Regions from separate parts of the Homo sapiens genome. Here region 1 is linked to region 2. Evidence: fine-mapped expression QTL. A gene starts in region 2. The other region holds a variant in brackets. All regions are shown on one strand. Distances are from middle to middle.

What was found. PIP is the estimated chance that this variant, and not a neighbour inherited with it, causes the effect. A credible set is the group of variants that fine-mapping cannot tell apart.
Region 1: its variant is the best candidate, but not a certain one, in a credible set for the expression of PLK2 in monocytes (Quach 2016, PIP 0.79).

Annotation. Positions count from the first base shown.
Region 1 is chr5:58,479,535-58,483,925 of GRCh38, reverse strand. No RefSeq gene overlaps it. Among named protein-coding and RNA genes, the nearest start is that of GAPT, 9.7 kb to the left of the region's middle. The variant C/T (reference allele first, on the strand shown) is at 2,117.
Region 2 is chr5:58,457,430-58,461,820 of GRCh38, reverse strand. It overlaps PLK2 (polo like kinase 2), which reads left to right and starts at 1,735. Exons shown (of 14, transcript NM_006622.4): 1 at 1,735-2,131; 2 at 2,729-2,836; 3 at 2,980-3,096; 4 at 3,293-3,422; 5 at 3,650-3,737; 6 at 4,238-4,333. The coding sequence starts at 1,862. RefSeq lists silencers at 1,238-1,417, 3,445-3,739 and an enhancer at 4,391.

The DNA.
Region 1 (4,391 bases), 22 kb before region 2:
GGTACTATGAACTACCCTCTTATTTTTACTTTGTTTATCTAAATTCCTGTAAAGAAGTCCCAGATTAAAATCTGCTTTATTCCAAAGGGGATAAAGTCAAATTCCTATTTATTTCACACCATCCAATCTGAGCTAAAGACAGTGCCCTGACTGTGGAATATTGACGGACTAGAGCAGGGCTCTTGCCCACGTTTTAAGAAAGTATGAGAGGTTTTAATAAGTAATTGAGGAGACATAAAAATGAGAGGCTGAGCTGTAAGATCATGAAGCTCGTGATTAGAATTTTTTTTCTCTACAGTTCACAGTTGGGGAGTGACATGCTCAAAACCGGGCTTAAGTATGGCCACTCTTGCTACTATTATGCAGAATCATGGAAACGACCTCATGTTTACCTTTGACTGGACTTAGCAAGCTGCTGCAAGTAGAGGCGGCCCATGTCTCTGCATACGCAAGGACATGTCTGTACCTCACATCACACCATCTCTTGCCTGCACAACTGCAATAGCCTCTTCCTGCTCTTCTTACACTGGCGATGCTACAATACCTCATCCTTCGGCTGGCAGAGCGATATTTCCCAAATTATAAATCAGATCACATCAGCCCCCCTGCATAAGACCCTTTACTGGCTACTCATACTCTTAGAATTAAACCCCAACCCCTAATACAGGCTATAAGGCTCTCCATGCTCTGGCGGCTGCCTGTTGCTATTATTTCCTCCTGTGTCCTCCCCAGGTCACTAGCCTCCAGTGACCCTTGTTTTCTCTGCACCTCCTGTGCGCCCAGTTCTTTCCTGCCTTAGGCCCTGCACTAGCTATGCCCATTACCATGCTGCTCTTCTCCTAAATCCTCCCATGCCTGCATCCTTCTCACTGAGGCTTCCTCTTCCATATCCCCTCCCCAGCGAGGATTTCCGTGACCTGCCCAGTTTGAAGTGCACCCCAACAGATGCTGTCACTCACTATCAACCCATACACACTGTCATGGTCACCCACACACAGACTGTCACTCACTCTCAACTCTACATACATTATCATTCCTACACATGCTCTCATTGTTATCACTACACATGCTGTCACTCCATCTCACCTTCACACACATGCCCTCACTGACACCCCTACACAGGCTGCCCCCCTCTGTCACCACTATACATGCTGTCATTCACTGTCAAACCTACACATGCTGTCCCTCCCTGTCACCCCTACACTTGGTGTCACTCACTATCATTCCTACACAGGCTGTTCCTCACTGTCACCCTTATACAGGCTGTCCCTCACTGTCACCTCACATATGCTGTCCCTGTCATCTCTATACATGCTGTCCCTCACTGTCACCCCTACACATGCTGTCATTCACTGTCACGCCTACACAGGCTGCCCCTCTCTGTCACCCCTACCTAAGCTGCCCCTCACTGTCACCTCTACACATGCCATTATTCCCTGTCATCCCTAAACATACTGTCCCTCATTGTCACCCCTACACATGCTGCCCCTTATCATCACCCCTAAACATACTGTCCCTCACTGTCACCCCTACACATGCTGTCATTCACTGTCACTTCTACATGTTTTCACTCACTGTCACCCCTACACATGCTGCCCTGCACTGTCACCCCTACACATGCTGTCATTCACTGTCACTCCTACATGTTTTCACTCACTGTCACCCCTACACATGCTGCCCTGCACTGTCACCCCTACACATGCTGTCATTCACTGTCACTCCTACACGTTTTTGCTCACTGTCACCGCTACACATGCTGTCACTTGCTATCACCCTAACACATGCTGGTCGTCACTGTCACCCTTATACACGCTGTCCCTCACTGTCATCCCACATATGCTGTCATTCACTGTCACTCCTACACATTTTCACTGACTGTTGCCCCTACACATGCTGTCCCTCACTGTCACCCCTACACATGCTGTCATTCATGGTCACTCCTACATATGCTGTCCCTCACCGTCACCCCATACATGCTGTCATTCGCTGTCACTCCTACACATGCTATCACTCACTGTCACCCCTACACATGCTGCCCCCTCTGTCACCCCTGTATAAGCTGCCCCTCACTGTCACCTCTACACATGCTGTCACTCCCTGTCACCCAACATACTGT[C/T]CCTCACTGTTACCCCTATAGAGTCTGCCCCTCACTGTTACCCCTACGCATGCTGTCACTTCCTGTCACCCCTACACATGCTGCCCCTCACTGTTACCCCTACGCATGCTGTCACTTCCTGTCACCCCTACACAGGCTGCCCCTCACTGTCACCCCTTCACATGCTGTCCCTCATTATCATCCCTATGCATGCTGCCCCTCACTGTCACCTCTAATCATACTATCCCTCATTGTCACCCCTACACATGCTGTCACTCACTGTCACCCCTATACATGCTGTCCTTCACTGTCACCTCTACACAGGCTGTCACTCACTGTCACCCCTACACATGCTGTCCTTCACTGTCACCCCTACACATGCTGCCCCTCACTGTCACCCCTACACATGCTGTCACTCCTACACACATTATCACTTGCTGTCACTCCTGCACATTCTCTCATGCACTGTCAGTTGTACACACATTGTCTCTCACTGTCACCCCTATACACATTGTCACTGACTGTCACCCATACACATGCTCTTACTCACTGTCACCCTACATATACTGTCATTCACTGTCATACCTACACACACTCTCACTGTCACCCCTACACAAATTGTCTCTCACTGTCACCCCATATATATTGTCACACATGGCCACCTTACACACACTGTCACTCCCTGTCACAGCTACACATGCTCTGTCACCACTACACACATTGCCACTCACTGTTACCTCTACACACACTCACTCACTGTCACCTCTAAACATACTGCCACTCACTGTCACCCCTACACATACTCTCACTTCATGCCTATGCCGATTATCATAGTTAGCCCTACACACAAACACGTCACCCCTACACACATTGTCGCTCTCATCTCCGCACATGCTCTCACTGTCACCCTGCACATGCTGGCACTCCCTGTTACCCCACACACACTGATGCTCACTTTCATACCAACTTGTTCCATTTTTATAATAGCTTGTAGCACTATCTAATACTTTGATATTTTGTGTTACTCTTATCCCTCCTAAACTTAGTGCTAAGTTCATGAGAAGATGGGTTATGTCTTTTTTGTTCACTGCTGTCTGATTTATCAGGGTCTGTCATATCATGTAAAAGGGGTTCAATAAATGTTGCTTATTAATAAATGAAAAAATAGGGATTATTCTTGGAGAGTAATCTTGGGCTAAAATAATAGACTTTATGGTGCTAAACATAAATACACATCACACAGCATATGCAGCACTTGTATGTGTATTATATATATACACACAAATATTTACACACATACAAATGTACCTATATAGTTTAGAGAATAACAAATAAGTACACTCAGGTAAAGAAATTGAAAAATCACCACTACTTTGGAAACCCCAATTTGCCCCACCCTATGATGTTCTCATCTTTCGTCTCCAGAGTAACCATCATCTTGGTTTCTTTTTGTTCATCATCCTTGTTCTTTTTAAGAATTTGATCATCTAAGTGTGTGCCTGTAAATTGTTTTGGAAAACTAGAGGGCAAGTGCAGGCTTGGATAGTGTAGAAATGGCAAGATCCCCACTCTTTGATGAGGCTCTCAGGAGAAGTGAATCCACACTGAGCTTTGAGACCAGCTTGTTGAGAAATTACAAAGCCCATTCAGGGGGGCTCCGAGGTCAGCAGAACAGGTGTGGAAAGTGCCATGAGAAATGCACAGCTTGTCAGGAAGCTGGCAGGGCTGTAGTGTGGACCAGACACTGGATGGCTGATGGAGACAAGGTCAGAGCCAGGGGTTGTTTCGTATTTTCTGCTTCTAAGTATGGCCTTTAGGCTTGGTCAAAAAAGAACATTTCTGTGGAATAAAAAGGGCTTTCAGCTGATTCAGGCAGCAGAATGTCAAGACAAGACAATTGTAGGCAAGTATAGGGGCCAGGGTCACTGGGACCTCAGGTTTAAAAAGGGTGCAAAGTTGGCTGGGTGCAGTGGCTCACTCCTGTAATCCCAGCACTTTCAGAGGCCGAGGCAGGTGGATCACTTGAGGTCAGAAGTTCAAGACCAGTCTGGCTAACATGGTGAAATCCCATTTCTACTAAAAATACAAAAAATTAGCTGGGCGTGGTGGCACACACCTGTAATCCCAGGTATTTGGGAGGCTGAGGTAAGAGAATAGCTTGAACCTGGGAAGCGGAGGTTGCAGTGAGCGGAGATGGTGCCATTGCACTCCAGCTTGGGCAACAAAAGCAAAACTCCATCTAAAAAAAAAGGTGCAAAGTTAGCTGGAATAGGGTGCATTATTTCCAACAAAAACT
Region 2 (4,391 bases):
GGGATAAAGATTATTTTAAGATAATTATTTTGAGAACCAGCAGACCCAGGAAATGCTCTAAAAATGGCATATTACCCTTTCGTAAGGGAAACGTACATTCACTAAAAAAAAAAACAACAAAAACAAAAAACAAAAAAACCCCACAAAACTCCATTTGTAAAAGTGTCTCCTCTGTACCAGGAAGAATGACTCTAAATCATGAAAAACTTATCAATGAAGAAATAAGAAACCCCACTCCTGTTTACCGTACATTTCCTGGTCATGATTCCTTAACTTGCCTGCCCCACTCTTTTCTTTTGGTTTAGCTAAAGATAGTATTTAAGCCCGATTTTAAACCATCTCTAATTTTCCTGGTTATCTCCCATGTATATATGAGACGTATATGTTAATAAGCTTCTTTGTTTTCTTGTTAATCTGTCTGGTTACAGCGACCCAGGCCAAAACTTTGAAAGGTGGAAAATTATTTTTCCTTCCTTACAATATTTCTCTCAGAATTGTTGTAGGATGAAATAAGGCATTTAAAAATACTGCACAGTCCTCAATAAATGTTACTCTATCGTAATTAGAACAAGAAAAACAAACAAAAAAACGTGTTCCTAGATTAGTCAAACTGCACAGCAAAATCTGGAAATGGGAAACTAAGCTGTGTTTGCACTCACTGGCCTACGCTCCTCTCTTCATCCTACCAATCTCCCTACCCCAGAAAGTCTCAGATTGACTCTCCAGGAACCAGGGCAGCTCATGAGCCATCTCAACAGATGCATTCGGAAGAAGTCATAGATGACTCTGATTGGAAACTCACAATCGGCATCGATGTTTAGTACTAGTAACTGTCAAAGGCCCACGGTTGTCAACCGCTGCCCACTTCGACACCTAACGGCATTCCGGAACATTCCACAAGATGGCGCCCTTGCTTTCCAATCTTCGGGCTACGGGCGGAGGACGCCTTGCCAGGACGCCGACCTCGCTCTGCAAGGTTCAGGGGCCGACCTCAGACAGAGGCTCGCTCTAGGGGCATGGGCGGGGGCCAGACGGGCCTCGAGTGGGATCCTGGCACGGTTGGCCGATCGGCCCGGGATCCCGGCTGCGGGCCCGTGTCTGCCCTAGCGCGATGGGCTCGAATGCCCGGCTCCACGAATCCCGGCCTTTCACCCCCACGGCCTCTCGGCACTGCCCCAGCTAGACACCAGCGAGCTCGTCACAGCGCGGGCAGGCACTGCGGGGCAGCTGCAGACGAGCCCTGTCATACGGCCGGAGGAGGCCTCGCCTGCCCGTGCGGCGGGCTCCGGGCACCCTGATACCTTGACACAGGAGGCCCCGGGCGGCCGGGAAGGGCTGTGCGGGGGAGGGACTGCGTCTACACCCGCGCCCGACTCGCTCGGGTCACGGCACTGCCCTGCCACCAGGCGGCTGGGGCGGGGGTGAGGCCAGGCGTCGGCCCTCGCGATTCTGTTTTGTACGCTGAGGCTCGGAGCCTTCGAAGAACGGGACAGCGGGGCCCACGGACGGCTCTGAAGGCCTTCCCGCGGCCGCAAGAGATCTCGGCGGCCGGCGTTTGAGGCGCGCGGCTCCGCTGGGAAGCGAGACCCGGGTGGCGGGACAAGACTTGCTTCCCGGCCACGCGCGCTCGGCCGGCCGTGGGGCGGGGCATAGGCCGTGACGTGATGTCGCGTATCGAGTCTCCGCCCCCTTCCCGCCTCCCCGTATATAAGACTTCGCCGAGCGCTCTCACTCGCACAAGTGGACCGGGGTGTTGGGTGCTAGTCGGCACCAGAGGCAAGGGTGCGAGGACCACGGCCGGCTCGGACGTGTGACCGCGCCTAGGGGGTGGCAGCGGGCAGTGCGGGGCGGCAAGGCGACCATGGAGCTTTTGCGGACTATCACCTACCAGCCAGCCGCCAGCACCAAAATGTGCGAGCAGGCGCTGGGCAAGGGTTGCGGAGCGGACTCGAAGAAGAAGCGGCCGCCGCAGCCCCCCGAGGAATCGCAGCCACCTCAGTCCCAGGCGCAAGTGCCCCCGGCGGCCCCTCACCACCATCACCACCATTCGCACTCGGGGCCGGAGATCTCGCGGATTATCGTCGACCCCACGACTGGGAAGCGCTACTGCCGGGGCAAAGTGCTGGGAAAGGTGACAAGCGGAGGGCGCCGGGCTGCCGGGCGGGCGGGAGGTCTGTCCGGGCGACCCCAAGCCGGGCAAGCCCGCGGGGTCCCTCGCCCGCCGCTTCCGGGTTTTTCGGGGGTCCGATCCCAGCGCGAGGTGGGCTCCTCACCTGCCCTCTGGCTTTTGTGCGCCGGCAGCGCTGGGGATCGGCTTTGCATTCTTAGCCTCAGAACTGTGTGTCTCCCGCAGCCCAGAGAAATGCATCTTGAGTCTGGAAGCGAGGGCTTTCTACATCAGACCTCTCTCCCTCTATCTGCTCCCAGGGAATTTTCCTGACAAGTCTCATCAGAGATTATTTTTCATGTCTCCCCGTTCCAACTCCCTCCATAAAGCTCCCCTTTATAAAAGAAGAAGAGAAACTGTTTGAACTTGCTGTTTCCAGCAATGCATTTCTCTTCATGAGGGAGCTTTAACGAAGTCGAATGCCTCCCTCTGTCCACCCTCCTCCATTCCTCAATTTTTTTTTTTTTGCTTTTCTTTCTTCCCATTTATTTATTTATTTAAAATATCTGCCGTCCATTTTTGTGCCATCCTCAATTCCGTCTCGGCTTTGTTTCCTTTCAGGGTGGCTTTGCAAAATGTTACGAGATGACAGATTTGACAAATAACAAAGTCTACGCCGCAAAAATTATTCCTCACAGCAGAGTAGCTAAACCTCATCAAAGGGAAAAGGTGCGTATGACTCTTGAGTAAAGTATTTTCTTTGTGTGCAAGGATGGCCCTTCCCTGTTAGGAAAATGTCTTCTGCATGTGTAATCACTGGCTTTTCCGAGGTGACTGGAAGCTAATAAGCCTTACCTTGCTTTTTCATTTAGATTGACAAAGAAATAGAGCTTCACAGAATTCTTCATCATAAGCATGTAGTGCAGTTTTACCACTACTTCGAGGACAAAGAAAACATTTACATTCTCTTGGAATACTGCAGTAGAAGGGTAAGTGTCAACTCCTATTTGAGAACATTTGCTTACCCCGAATTAACATGGTATTCAAAGAGTATTTTATCTGGGATTTTAGCTGTGGCAGCACTTACACTGCAAAGTTAACTTTCATTGCTCATCCTGCAAAGGGAAACCAGTGATTTTGATAACTGTTTTGACAGATTCTCTTTTTTCCTTCTCCTCTTCTTAGTCAATGGCTCATATTTTGAAAGCAAGAAAGGTGTTGACAGAGCCAGAAGTTCGATACTACCTCAGGCAGATTGTGTCTGGACTGAAATACCTTCATGAACAAGAAATCTTGCACAGAGATCTCAAACTAGGTAAGTCATTGACGCCAAAAGCTGAGTTTTGTGTTAGAGTTCTTTTTTCTCTCTCTGTTTTTTTTTACATATTAATGTTCTTAATTGGGATCTCGTGTCTGCAATCTTGCTTTTGAATGGGCGACTTTCATATAACAATTGGCTGCCTGGCTCCAAAGTGGATGTGTGTGTACTTGGTTAGAACGCATTTTCAAAGGGATTCACATTTTGTTTTGTTTATCGTCTAGGGAACTTTTTTATTAATGAAGCCATGGAACTAAAAGTTGGGGACTTCGGTCTGGCAGCCAGGCTAGAACCCTTGGAACACAGAAGGAGGTAAGAGTCAGAAAGATGCATCCTAGTAGACTTTTGTGGAGACCAAATATGCCTTCATTATTTTGCATTTAATGTTTCAGAGGTCCGGTAATAAAATCTATAAATCATAGCAATGTTAATTTAAAGAAATACTTATTAAATGCCCACTATGGACTAGACAGAGCACCCTGTGCCTCTAAATTGATTATGAAAGCAGTCAATGAAGTCTTTTCTTGGCTTAAAATGTATAAAATGCCACGACGTCCCTGGCTTTAGTTGGTTAACAACACTTTGCATGTGGGCTAAAACAACGTGTGTGCATTTTTAAAAATTACCAAAACTCATTTGGTCAGATCTCAATTGAATTTTCAGATGCCAAAAGTCAAATGTTTCCAAATAGAAATTCAGTATAGATTTTAAGATTTTGTTTAAGATTTTGTCTCCCATCAAGTCATGTCAAGAGAACCAAGTTTAAGTAGTGGAATAGTTCCTAACACGATCTCAATATTTTGTCTTTCCAGAACGATATGTGGTACCCCAAATTATCTCTCTCCTGAAGTCCTCAACAAACAAGGACATGGCTGTGAATCAGACATTTGGGCCCTGGGCTGTGTAATGTAAGTAAATGCAGCAGAATAATTAAAAAGCAAATTCGGATTTAGATTTTAACACTTG